4 linked regions of the Homo sapiens genome follow. The protein of the gene in region 4 interacts with the protein of the main gene of each other region in a biochemical or structural test. Each region holds a gene or a part of one and is shown on either strand. Other genes may lie near its edges.

The links. The genes of interacting proteins can lie anywhere in the genome.
Region 1: the proteins of RPL4 (region 4) and APBB1 form a complex in vitro, tested with the Homo sapiens proteins (one study listed by BioGRID).
Region 2: the proteins of RPL4 (region 4) and MYB form a complex in vitro, tested with the Homo sapiens proteins (one study listed by BioGRID).
Region 3: the proteins of RPL4 (region 4) and TNPO2 form a complex in vitro, tested with the Homo sapiens proteins (one study listed by BioGRID).

The regions. Positions count from the first base shown.
Region 1 is NC_000011.10:6,395,084-6,398,594, forward strand, and holds the end of APBB1 (amyloid beta precursor protein binding family B member 1), read right to left. Parts: intron 1,133-3,511; coding exon 1,017-1,132; intron 880-1,016; coding exon 703-879; intron 619-702; coding exon 451-618; 3' UTR 42-450; downstream 1-41. UniProt on the Homo sapiens protein: Transcription coregulator that can have both coactivator and corepressor functions. Adapter protein that forms a transcriptionally active complex with the gamma-secretase-derived amyloid precursor protein (APP) intracellular domain.
Region 2 is NC_000006.12:135,201,808-135,205,318, forward strand, and holds part of MYB (transcriptional activator Myb), read left to right. Parts: intron 1-1,409; coding exon 1,410-1,517; intron 1,518-3,511. UniProt on the Homo sapiens protein: Transcriptional activator; DNA-binding protein that specifically recognize the sequence 5'-YAAC[GT]G-3'. Plays an important role in the control of proliferation and differentiation of hematopoietic progenitor cells.
Region 3 is NC_000019.10:12,703,422-12,706,932, forward strand, and holds part of TNPO2 (transportin-2), read right to left. Parts: intron 3,375-3,511; coding exon 3,149-3,374; intron 3,098-3,148; exon of another isoform or gene 3,028-3,097; intron 2,947-3,027; coding exon 2,775-2,946; intron 2,348-2,774; coding exon 2,261-2,347; intron 2,179-2,260; coding exon 2,071-2,178; intron 1,978-2,070; coding exon 1,819-1,977; intron 381-1,818; coding exon 293-380; intron 251-292; exon of another isoform or gene 176-250; intron 106-175; coding exon 7-105; intron 1-6. UniProt on the Homo sapiens protein: Probably functions in nuclear protein import as nuclear transport receptor. Serves as receptor for nuclear localization signals (NLS) in cargo substrates.
Region 4 is NC_000015.10:66,499,686-66,501,855, forward strand, and holds part of RPL4 (large ribosomal subunit protein uL4), read right to left. Parts: coding exon 2,103-2,170; intron 1,820-2,102; coding exon 1,690-1,819; intron 1,634-1,689; exon of another isoform or gene 1,567-1,633; intron 1,421-1,566; coding exon 1,264-1,420; intron 692-1,263; coding exon 608-691; intron 492-607; coding exon 371-491; intron 1-370. UniProt on the Homo sapiens protein: Component of the large ribosomal subunit. The ribosome is a large ribonucleoprotein complex responsible for the synthesis of proteins in the cell.

The DNA of each region.
Region 1 (3,511 bases), on a different chromosome or scaffold from region 4:
TAATGGGTTGATGGTGTGGTACAGGCATAAGAAGGCACACAGCAGTGCAGACAGACTTTATTAGTGATATCAATACAGCAGAGGTGCCCATGGAGCAGGGGGAAGGGACCCATGCCTGGACCAGTCCCTTCCTCCTTCTGCCCCTGCTGGGTCCAGGAGGATGAGGCCTGGCCTGGACCAGTTCCTCCTGTTCCACCTGAAACACATGGGGATGGAGAACCAGGGCTGGCCTTGCTTCCTGCTCCTCTTGTTACCACTCCAGTGTTATCACTTCCTTGAAGGGATTAGATCTCTCCCTCCCCAGCTCCTAGGCAGGGAACCGTAGCTACTGGGGAGGGGCATATTTGGGAGGCCTGAGGCCTAGGAATAGCCTCTAGACCCCTCCCTGACCCACACCCTTTAGTTCCCTGGGGCCCAACACAAGCAGGTGGAGGGAAGGTGGGGGCTTCTTCATGGGGTATGGGCCCCCAGCCGTTTGGGCTTCAGGGAGCCCCACAGCGACTGAACACCCCTGCGGACAGTCCACCCTACACGCCGTGCCACAGACTCAGCAGGGGGTGCTGGGAGGCAGGAGGTGGAGGCCTGGGAACGGGCATCCAGACACTTCTGGTAGCGAAGCTGCGGAGGCAAGCAGGGCAGTCACTCCCCAGCCTACCTCCCATGGGGCCACGCCACCACCACACCACCCTACTAGTAGCTTACCATGCACGCAGCCTGCACAGCCTCTGAGAGGCTGGCAGCATTGGGCTCGCACCAGAACATGTGGCAGCAGAAGGAGGCTGGGCCGGCAGCCATGATGAATGCAAACGTGTGGACATCTCTGCCCACGGCCAGGAAGGAGAGGAAACGCACCCGACACTCTCCCAGCACTGCCTCTGTCTGCATGGAGGGAACTCAGTTAAAAAGGAACACCAACCCCACACTGTGTTCCACATCCATCTTAGCAGCTCTTCCCCTCACCCCCAGTCTCCCCTCTATGGCAAGGCGCAGCCACGACTTCTACCCCAGCTCTTTACCTGCTGGTGCAAGATGGTGAGGGTAGCAGGGGCCACACTGACATGACTTGGGGTCCATTGTTCACGGCTGCTGGAGGACAGGACTGACTCGAGGGCCCCATTAATCACATCTACCCCTAGAACATATGGACACAAGATACCACTGAGGGTAGACAGAGGATACCCCAGCTCTACCCTGGACCTCTAGTTCCACCCAATCAAACCCAGGGCCTTTGCCCCATCCCCACTTTGCCAGCCTACATTTTGGACAACGCTGTCCAAGTATCCCTTCCCTGGGGCTCTCCTCCCCTGGCTTCAGTAACTGGACATTTTCCTACTTTTTAAAATCTTGGATCCTAGGCTCGTTATTTTCACCGGCTCTGCCTATTCCTCCACACTTCTGAACTGACTGACCTCTCAAAGTTCTGATTTCCCCAAATCATGCTCTCTCAGCGCTCATCACACTCAGACATCACATTGCTTCACACCACAATAACTCCCAAATCAGACCCTACAGGCCAGTCCTCTCCCAAGACCCAATTATTTTTTAAGATATCTATCTGAGGAGTGATTACTCTGTATCACATTGTGCTAAGTCATTACAGTGTATTACCTCATTTGTGCCCACACAACAACATCACAATAGATTACTTTATTTCCATTTTACAAATAAGGAAACGGAAGAGATAGGTAATATGCCTTAGGTCACATCGAGGAATGGGGACCTGAGCTCAGGCAGTCTGATTCCAGAGCCTGGGTTCTTAGCCATGCCTTTCTCCTACCTCTTCTCTATATTACTAGTTTTCAGAACTAGAAGGGCTTTCAAGATCTTAGTTCTACTCAAGAATGTCTATAATGTGCTCAAGAGCCAAGGAACCCAAGGTTCCTGACTTTCAGATCAATCAACTTTCCCTTATAACACATGGCCTCCTCCACCTCAAACTGCTGTTAAACATTTCCCCTCATGGATCCCACTTTTGCTTGCACTCAGCAGAGCACCAAGGCAGGAGCACATGTTGTGGCAAAGGCATCAGTTCTAGTCCCCACACTCATACGCTGGCTGTGTGATCTACTGTCTCTGCACAATGCCAGTGCAAAAGGCACATGCCTCTGTGGTCCACTCCCAGGCCCTCTGCCCCTTTTAGTGGCTCTCAGCTCCCACTAGGAGCAGACCACGTGGACTCTTTTGGGCAGAGGACAAATGTCTTCCTTGCATGTCTTCTCCCATCTTGGCCTTGCTCATCTGACTTCTAGCTGGATCAAGGCCAAACTGCTCCCAAAAGCATACAAGTCTTCCAAAAACTGGCCTCACCAGAGCTGTCAAGCTTCATATTTTACTGCTCCCTGAGCTTCAGATGATTTGTGTAGCATTATTATTAACAACTAATCTTGGCAAATGGCCTGTAAAGCAGATGGGGAATACAAAGCAAGAGAAGAGAATGCCCTTGAGAGACACAGACTGCAACTGAGGGAAAAGCCTCTGTCTTGAGTGCCCTTTCCCTGCTGGACTGAGAAACTTCAGACTGTCATCCTTCAGGGCTCCAACTAGGTGCTGTCTAGGAAGCCATGCCTGCTGCAGGGCAGGGAGAGGACAACTCTGAGACAACTCTTACCATAACGTCTTGTAACTGCTGGAAAACTTTTTTCCACACTGGGCCGTGGCCATCTCAAGAACAGAAATGGAATTTAATTCATCCCTCTGTCCCCAATTCTAACACAGGGCTTATCTGCTGAAGAAATTCCAGATGCATGAGCAAGTCACTCTCAAGGCAACAAGGGCAAATGCACCCGAACTGGTAAAACCAAGTGTCACAGAAGTGGATGGGCCAGGTCAGATTGCAGAGTGCTTCAAAAGCCAGGCAGAGGGGTGTGATGTTTATGACATTTAGGCCAGGGCAATTGGAAATCTCAAAGTTCAGGTGTGTGAAAGGGACATCATAGTCAAACTGCTGAATAGATGGGGCTGTGGGAGATGGAGCCTGGCCTCAGAGTCTTGGGAAGTTTGGCAGGGAAGCAGTGAAAGCAGTGGACCAAGGTATGGAAAAAGGCTGTCAGATTTGATAACTCAGGACTAAAACCTACACTGTGACCTTGACCTCCAGCCCCACATGCAATCCCCCTAATCCTGCTGTGCTTTTCTCTTCTTTTTTTTTTGTATCAGTTGTTGCCTTCTAACATACTCCATGGTTTACTCATTTTATTGTCTGTCTCTCCTTGCTAGAATGTCAGCTAAATAAAAGCAGGGATCTTTGTCAGTTTTGTTGATTAATGCATGCCAAGAAGCTAGAATAGTGCCTGACATGTATCAGGCATTCATTACCACTTGTTAAATAAATGAATAATTAATGAATGAATATTGCAGCTTCTGGATGGGCTAATGTTTAAAAACGAGCATAAGATAAAGCAGGAAGTAAGTTTAGAGACCACTTGTCCAAGCGGAGCAGTCAAGGGTCACAGGCAGTTGATCTGGCATAGGGAGGACCAGAGTCAAGTGGTAGATGGAAAGAAGCACATAT
Region 2 (3,511 bases), on a different chromosome or scaffold from region 4:
CTGTGTGTGGCATAGGGCTGCTGCGGTTTCAGCACTCCCTCTTTAACACATCTTATTTCTAAATGTTCTCCTGCACATGATTTTTAAAAAATGATTATTAATGTAGAGTATAAAGTTGAGATTTTTTCATGTATTAGAAACATTGCAGACTTTTTCATTATTTGTTTTCTCATTATTTGAGTGCCTTGGCCATTTAAAAAAATCTACATGGATATAAAAACTATGTTCATTTATATATTTTCCTTTATTTGTCTTCTAAATAATATTGTCTTCTTGTTAAGTTGTCTCTTGTTTGGTTTGTGTAGCATCTCATATGGTATCAACCACGTTGTCTATAGTAGATGCCCAGTATTGTACCCAATTGCTTTGGGTTACTACCACCATTTTTAAAGTTTATAATTTGTGAAGGGTTGTCCTTATGTCTTAAGGAAAATCAGAGCTAATAACAGCTGCTAAGATTTATTTAGTAGGTACTAAGTGGTAAGTACTGCTCTAGGGGCTTTCGATGAATTGATTCAGTTAATTCTCACAATTATCCTGTAAGGTTGGTATTATTTTTATTAATTTTTATTTTTTTTGAGACGGAGTTTCGCTCTTGTTGCCCAGACTGGAGTGCAATGGCACGATTTCGGCTCACTGCAACCTCTGCCTCCCGGGTTCAAGCGATTCTCCTGCCTCAGTCTCCCGAGAAGCTGGGATTACAGGCACCCGCCACCACGCCCAGCTAATTTTGAATTTTTAGTAGAGACGGGGTTTCTCCATGTTGGTCAGGCTGGTCTTGAACTCCTGACCTCAGGTGATCTACCCGCCTCGGCCTCCCAAAGTGCTAGGATTACAGGCGTGAGCCACCGCGCCCGGCCAGGTGGGTATTATTATCATTTCTATTATGTCAACTGGAAAACAGAGGCACAAAGAGGCTTAGTCATTTGCTCAAGATTGTATACCTAATAAGGGATGGTGCTGGGTTGGAACTCAGAAGGTCTTGTTCTAAATTCCCTACTTTTCACCATTTTTTGCCAATAATTTATAGCTCTAAAATATTGATAGTTCTGTACCAATATATGAAATAAAGTGTTCTCTCCCCAGAACTTAGTAAATCTTCTATTTTGAAAGGCATGTATTTATTAATTCATTTAGCAGATGTTTTTTGAGTGCCTAACACATGCCTAGAACTCTGGGATCCCAAAGGAGCTTTGTGTTGTGGTGATGTTTGCCACAATGGGATTAAGGTTCAGACATAGTTGATTTCTCCTTTTAGCTCATAGTGGGGAGAATTTCTGGCAGATGACTGCATTTTTTTATGCTAATGTGTATCATCTCATAGTAATCTACTCTCCACAGTGTTAGAAAAATGTGGCTCTCATATTATCCAACCTCATTTAAATTTCAAATTATTCTCTTCCCTTTAGAATATTCTTACAAGCTCCGTTTTAATGGCACCAGCATCAGAAGATGAAGACAATGTTCTCAAAGCATTTACAGTACCTAAAAACAGGTCCCTGGCGAGCCCCTTGCAGGTAATTACTATTCCAACATTGGTATTTTAAAATTCATTCACTGAAAAACTGTCATCTTTGGTGGTGGTGGTGGTGGTGGTGATGGTAGTGCTGGTGGTCTGTTTTTCGTTTTCAACATTTTAGACATAGGGGAGTAATGCTTTTATACAATTCTTGATGTCTAGAAAAATCCAATAATTCCTTTTTGCTACTCATATGAGACATGCTAGAAATTTTTATCAGTGCAGATTCCCCAAAGCATGATGAAATGAAACATTTCTTACTGTGACTGAGACTAAGATGTATTACACGTGTGTCACTATCTTCTTCTGCCCTCAAATGTTTTATAAAAATATATCAATATAGTTTACTTTATGTTCCAAATTTTTTATTTTTTATGCTGTATCCCTAGGCAACCAAAGCTCAGAGACTGTTCCAATTTTAAATGAAGTCTGAAATTAGTCAGACAGAAAATAATTGCAATGTATTTGACTGTCAGAATAAGAAAGTCAACTGTCAATGTTGTGAGGCCGATCTGAAGTTGACCATCTGCTGTCAGGTTTTAATATCAAAAGAGATTTCCCTTGTAACCCTAAAGTGGGTGTGTGTTGATGAAATATAACCAATTCCAAATTAATCCTGAGCCAAATGTAAATAAGAATGCAAATTTTGCTTCCCTAAATTATTTAAAGCAGTTTCTGACATTAAATAGCCCAATACCCAGCCACCTGCAGAGCCCTCTCCTCCATCCCCCTGTGCCATGCAGAGGGAAACTTCATAACCCTAGAGGAAGTGAAGAGCCTGGATTCAGAAGCTGAAGGTCATATTTCTTGCTGTAAGTTAAATGGCACGATCATAGGACAGCAGCCTTTGAGTCTGCCCATTACCTTAAAGGGATTTCCCATTCTTGTGATAGTTTCTCCTTCCAAATTGTGAGAATCTGAAAACTTGCCCGGTAAGTATTTGTGATGCTTAGTTTTTCAGGGTTTTTTGTTGATGTTGCTTTGTTTTTTGAAACAGGGTCTTACCCGGTGGCCCAGGCTGGAGTGTAGTGGGGTGATCTCGGCTCACTGCAACCTCCGCCTCCCAGATTCAAGTGATTCTTATGCCTCAGCCTCCCAATTAGCTGGAATTACAGGTGTGAGCCACCGGCAACCCAGCCGTTTTTTTGTATTTTTGGATAGAGACAAGGTTTTGCCATGTTGGCCAGGCAGGTCTCGAATTCCTGGTTTCAAGTGATCTGCCCACCTCGGCCTCCTACAGTGCTGGGATTACAGGTGTGAGCTACCGCACCTAGCCAGTGCGTAGTATTATTGTAAAATAAGGATTGCAAGCACATTTTGTTTAATTAAATCAGATTGCTTCCTTCCTGGCCTCTCTCTGACAGCAATTGTTTTGGTAAAATGGCTGTGGACTGGAATGTGAGACAGGGAGTCAGTATTTATGGGGAATCTGGACAAGTTCCTGCGTCAGTGAGGCTGGAGTTGGCCCCGTGTGGAGAAGACTCAGAATACCACAAAGAGGCCAGACGCAGTGGCTCATGCCTGTAATCCCAGCACTTTGGGAGGCCAAGGCGGGTGGATAACTTGAGGTCAGGAGTTTGAGACCAGCCTGGCCAACACGGTGAAACCCCATCTCTACTAATCCCAGCTACTCGGGAGGCTGAGACAGGAGGATCGCTTGAACCCAGGAGGCAGAGGCTGCAGTGAGCCGAGATCATGACACTGCACTCCAGCCTGGGTGACAGAATGAGACTCCATCTCAAAAAAAAGAATATCACAAATAATTGGGAGATGAGGAAGAGAATGAACTCCACCCAGACATAAGAGGAACCCAGAAAGGGAGTTACAAAGATTTCAAGGCAAAGGGCAGCCATTTCAAAATTTTCCTGAAAGCTGTTCTTAGGTCCAGAAGAAAAGCTTTTGCTTTTTTTTTTTTTTTTAATTATTCCCACCTAAGTTACTTGGCTCTTGGTTTCTAGAGAACAGAATTCAACTACTGCTATTCGTGTTTTA
Region 3 (3,511 bases), on a different chromosome or scaffold from region 4:
ACTCACCCATCTGCATGCAGATTTCACCAATGGCCCAGGTGGCGTTGTTGCAGACGGAGATGAACTCTGGGTTCAGGTTGGTGCCCAGAATGGGCATGAACTCGGCTGGTGGGGAGAAACAGGGGTGCTGAGAAGGAGGGCCAGCCAGGGTAAGCTGCAGGACCTAGTCCAGCAGGCCCCATCAGACAGTACGAATACATCCCAATGTGGTCACAGTCATCCCCGGGTATTGCTCTCCATCACTTGAGGCCGGGGCTGGGGTCATGGGTTAGGGACAAGGCGAGTGTCGTACCGATACAGGGCTTGACATGGATGAAGCAGGCTTTGGTGAGGTCTCCCAGGAGGGCAAAGGAGCTCTGCCGGACCTCAGGCATCGAGTCCTGGGGATTCAAGTAAGATCAGTGTGGCTAGGCTCCCCTCCTTCTAACCAGGACAGCTCAGGGGGCACAGTCCCTGGTGCATGTCCAGCCTCTGCCACTTTCCAGTTCTAGAGCTCCTAGCTGTTCCTTAACCTCCCTAGCCTCCAGCCCACATCTGCAAATGGGAGATGGCAGTGCCCCAACGGTCATCCCTCAGTGTCCGTGGGGGATTCTTTCCAGGTCCCTGCAGATATAAAAATCCACGGATGTGCAAGTCCTTGATATAAAGTGGCACAGTGTTAGGGCCAGGCGCAGTGGTTCATGCCTGTAATCTCCAGCACTTTGGCAGGCCGAGGCAGGCAGATCACTTGAGGTCAGGAGTTTGAGACCAGCCTGGCCAACATGGCAAAACCCTGTCTTTACTAAAAATACAATAAAATTAGCCAGGCATAGTGGGACACGCCTGTAGTCCCAGCTTCTTGAGAGGCTAAGGCAGGAGAACTGCTTGAACCCTGGAGGTGAAGGTTGCAGTGAGCCGAGATCACACCATTGCACTCCAGCCTGGGTGACAGAGTGAGACTCTGTCTCAAAAAACAGGTGGGGGGCGGTGGGGGGGGCATAGTGTTTGCATATGCACCTATGCACATTCTCCTGTACACTTAGCATCATCTCTAAATCACTTATATCTAATACAATGTCAACAGTATGGGAATAGTTGTTATACTGTATTGTTTAGGGAATAATAACAAGAACAAACTTCTGTATGCGTTCAGTACAGATGTAATTTTTCCTCTGAGTATTTTCAATCTGAGGTTACTTGAATCTTGGGATGTAGAACCCACAGATACAGAGAGCCAACTGTGCTGGGGCAGGGACTTGGGCTTTCACATTTTCTATTTTCTTTTCTTTCTTTTTTTTTGAAGACAGAGTCTCAGTTTATTGCCCAGGCTGGAGTGCAGTGGCATGATCTCAGCTCACTGCAACCTCTGCCTCCTGGGTTCAAGCAATTCTCCTGCCTCAGCCTTCCAAGTAGCTGGGATTACAGGCGCCTACCACCATGCCTGGCTAATTTTTGTATTTTTCGTAGAGACAGGATTTCACCGTGTTGGCCAAGCTGCTCTCAAACTCCTGACCTCAAGTGATTCACCTGCCACAGCCTCCCAAAGTGCTGGATTATAGGCGTGAGCACCTGGCCTCACATTTTCTATTTTCAATACTGTTTGCTTTAAAAAAAATTTTTTTTTTTAATTTTAGAACTGGGGTTTCACTATGTTGCCCAGGCTGGTCTCAAACTCCTGGGCTCAAGCAATCCTGCCTCGGCCTCCAGGATTACTCTTTAAAATAATTAGAACAGCACCTTTTCCCTGATTTCCTTTGGGCACAACCAGGCCCTGACTCCCCACCAGGGGCAGCCCACGCAGGCTGCTGGGTGTCATCACTGTCCAGGGTCCCCACCCACCTGCATGCACTGGAACAGCAATGTCATGATGTTGCTGCGGGCCACCAGCTGCTCCACGTGACCACCCAGGCCCTCGGCCAGGCCGCTGAGCAGATCCAGTGCTACGATCATGAAGTCCTTGTCGGGAGCCTCATACTGCTCAGGGTGCTGGGTGTACATCTAGACACAGATGCCGACAGGGGCACGGGTAAGTGGAGCAGGCCCGAGGCAGGCCAATGCAGAAGCACAGGTGACGGGCCTAGGGTTGCTCACCATGGCCTGAGCCAGTGTCTTCTGCACCAGGGTGACACAGCGCTGGTAGACGGGCTCACAGTAAGGCAGGAAGCCACTCTGCAGGGCGGTGGCCACCGATGACAGACACTGGCAGGGAGGAAGGCAGGTGGGGAGAACTCAGGCAGGGTGGGCAGGATGGGTTTCGGGTGAGGGGCAGGAGCCCACTCACCTCCAGCAGGGGGAAGAGGTCCTTGTCTTCGTCCTTGAGCTCATTCCACTTCTGGATCAGTGGGGGCATCAGCTTCTGGATGTATTCCTGGAGAGGGAGCACGAAATGGGCGCTCCCTGGGTCGGGGTGGCAGACTGTGACTCAGGTACCTGTTGCCCGAGTGATGAGGCCTGAGCGCCTCACCGTGGCTCATGGGACCCTGAAAGGCCTGCCATCTGGCCAGACCTCGAGGCCTTCATTCTTCTCACCTGTCCAAGCACCGCCCGCCCCACCCCACCCCCCGGGAGCCTGGGTTACCACCTCCTGGTTCCCGAAGCACAGCACTTACCACGCTGTCTCATAACTGTCTTTCTCCCCCACTAGACTGGGAGCAGGGCGAGGGCGGGGCCGGGTCTGTCTGTCTGCCTGTCGAGGTCACGGCCACGTCCCTGGCGTGCAACACGGGGTTGCCACCAGGTCACTGGATGCCCAGGGGCACGGGGATCGGGAGGCGGGAGCCGCTCTGGGGTCTCACCGGCTGGTTGAGGTGGTGGCCTACAGAGTCGGCCAGGGTGCCAATGGCGTCATAGAGGATGAGCAGGTTCTTGTGCTGGTATTTCCCAAAGGCAAAGACAAGGGTGTCCAGGATGTAGCTGAGGTAGGGCACCAGCTCCGTGCAGGCCTCTTCCTCCAGGGTGGCAAAAGCACTGGTGGGAGGGAGGATGAAGCGGGGGCTCAGTGGACCATGGCAGGTGACACTGGGCCATGGGCAGTTGGGGAGGGCAACTCAGGATCAGCCAGTACGAATACGCGATAAATCAGTTCCACATCAACAGTCACAGGTGTCATCACTTCCCAGAGGGTGGCCGGGGGAGAGTGGGGGCTGTGGGATCAGGGGTCCAGGGTCACCTGCAGGCCGCCTCCTGTACCCTCTTGTTGCCATCCAGGATGCGTTTGAGCAGCTCTGTCATCAGGGGCTTGAGGTGCATGTCGGGTGGCTGGCTGACCACCCAGTGGGCATAGCGGCTCAGCGTCCAGCAGGCGATGGAGCGGACCAAGGCCTTCTTATCCGACAGGCACTGGATCAGGTGCGGGATCAGCTCAGGCAGGTAGGGCACCATGCCCTGCATGCAGCCTACAAGGAAAGGGAACCAAGAGGGGGCAGTTTGATTGGGCCCAGCCACACCCACCGTATGGAGAGAAGAGTCAGCCGCACACAACATATAGGGAAACTGAGGCTTAGAGTTTAAATCACTGGCCCAGACTCATTTC
Region 4 (2,170 bases):
AAATCCCTGTAAGAACTTAATGTATCAGGAAGAGAAAAACAAAAACAAAACAAACCAGCCGGGCACGGTGGCTCACGCCTGTAATCCCAGCACTTTGGGAGGCCGAGGCAGGTGAATCACCTGAGGTCAGGAGTTTGAGACCAGCCTAACAATATAGTGACACCCCGTCTCTACTGAAAATACAAAAATTAGCCGGACATGGTGGCGTGCGCCTGTAGTGCCAGCTACTTGGGAGGCTGAGACAGAAGAACTGCTTGAACTTGGTAGGTGGAGGTTGCAGTGAGCTGAGATCACGCCATTGCACTCCAGCCTGGGTGACAGAGCGAGATTCCGACTCAAAAACAAACAAACAAACAAAAACTCCACTCACATTCCTGGCCTGGCGAAGAATGGTGTTCCGGCGCATGGTCTTTGCATATGGGTTTAGCTTCAACATGATTCTCAAGTTTTTCAGTGGGTTCTTCTTTAGGACTCTGCGATGGATCTTCTTGCTATAAAAAAGCAGATACTGTATCAACATTTTACTTAACATTATACACATACAAATTTTTGAAACAACCAATAGTATAGGGTTGGGGCGAGAATTACACTCTAAGTATCACTTTACCGTGGTGCTCGAAGGGCTCTTTGGATCTCTGGGCTTTTCAAGATTCTGCTAAGATCTGTATTAATCATCTTGTGCATGGGAAGACTGAAAGGGAAAAGATTGACATGTACATGTAAAAGTAATCAACCAAAGAACAGGAAGCTCAACTGAAGCTTTATTTTTAGCCACTATGCTCTCCAAAATATCTACTACACTATCACTTCTCATAAACATGGACCAGGCCGGGTGTGGTGGCTCACCCCTATAATCCCAGCACTTGGGGAGGCCGAGGCGGGTGGATCACCTAAGGTCAGGAGTTCCAGACCAGCCTGGCCAACATGGTAAAACCCCAACTCTACAATTAGCCGGGTGTGGTGGCACAAGCCTGTAGTCCCAGGTACTTGGGAGGCTGAGACAGGAGAACTGCTTGAACCCGGGAGGCGGAGGCTGCAGTAAGCCACGATCACACCACTACACTCCAGCGTGGGTGAGACAGAACAACTCTGTCTCAAAAACAAAACAAAAAACCAAAAATATAGACCAGGTGAGTCTCATTTTGGCATACTGTTGCTGCACATAAGGGGAAATGGGAATAAATTTAGAAAACATGTAAGCCAATTCTGAATGTTAATATCCACAATATAAACATCTGTGCTTAGTATATGAAAGATACTTACTTGTAGTTACTCTTGAGGGAAGCGGCTTTACGCCAAGTGCCGTACAATTCATCTAACTTCCGGAAAGCACTTTCAGTCCAAATGCAGAAACGTCCCACATGCCCACCAGGAGCAAGCTTCAAAATGTTCAGCTTGCTTACATTAAGCAGAGTAATTCCTTTTAAAGGGAAAGAAAAATTAGGGAGCCTGTATTCCAACAAAAGAAACACAAATCATCTTTATGGCTTAAGAGCTATAAAAGGTACCTGAGAACTTATTAATTATGAAGTTTCAACCATCAATGGTGCAACTCTTTCAGCCATAAATCAGAACTTCCACAAAATCATTTGTTTCAGAAACACGGACCTTAAGTGGAATCTCATCATAACAAAAGCTGAGTAGACTTGCAGAGTATACCTAGTCAATATATGTAAGCAGTTTAATTACCAGGGATGTTTCTGAAGGCCTTGATGATACCATTATCCTCATTATAGATGATGCACGGGCCCCTGCGCTGGATACGGCGACGGTTTCTCATTTTGCCTTTGCCAGCTCTCATTCGCTGAGAGGCATAGACCTACAAAGTGAGCAGTTTTAGTATTCTGATTAAGATAGAATCTCTGCAATAGATCTTCAGAGTTTTAATTCCTTTTTACAGATGATTAAACTGGGCACAATAACTTGCCAAGGTTACACAGAGCCATAAACAGCAGTTAGGATTCAAACCCAAGTAATCGGGCTCTGAGGTTCTTGTTCTCTCACACATTAAGGATTAGCTATACTGCCCTTATCTTCTGAAATTCAAAGTGACAAACTGTGAACAAGGAGTACCAAACTGTAAATGTGCTCATTGAACGGACCTTTTTGATATCATTCCAGGCTTTAAGTTTCTTAAGGAGCAAAACAGCTTCCTTGGTCTTCTTGTAGC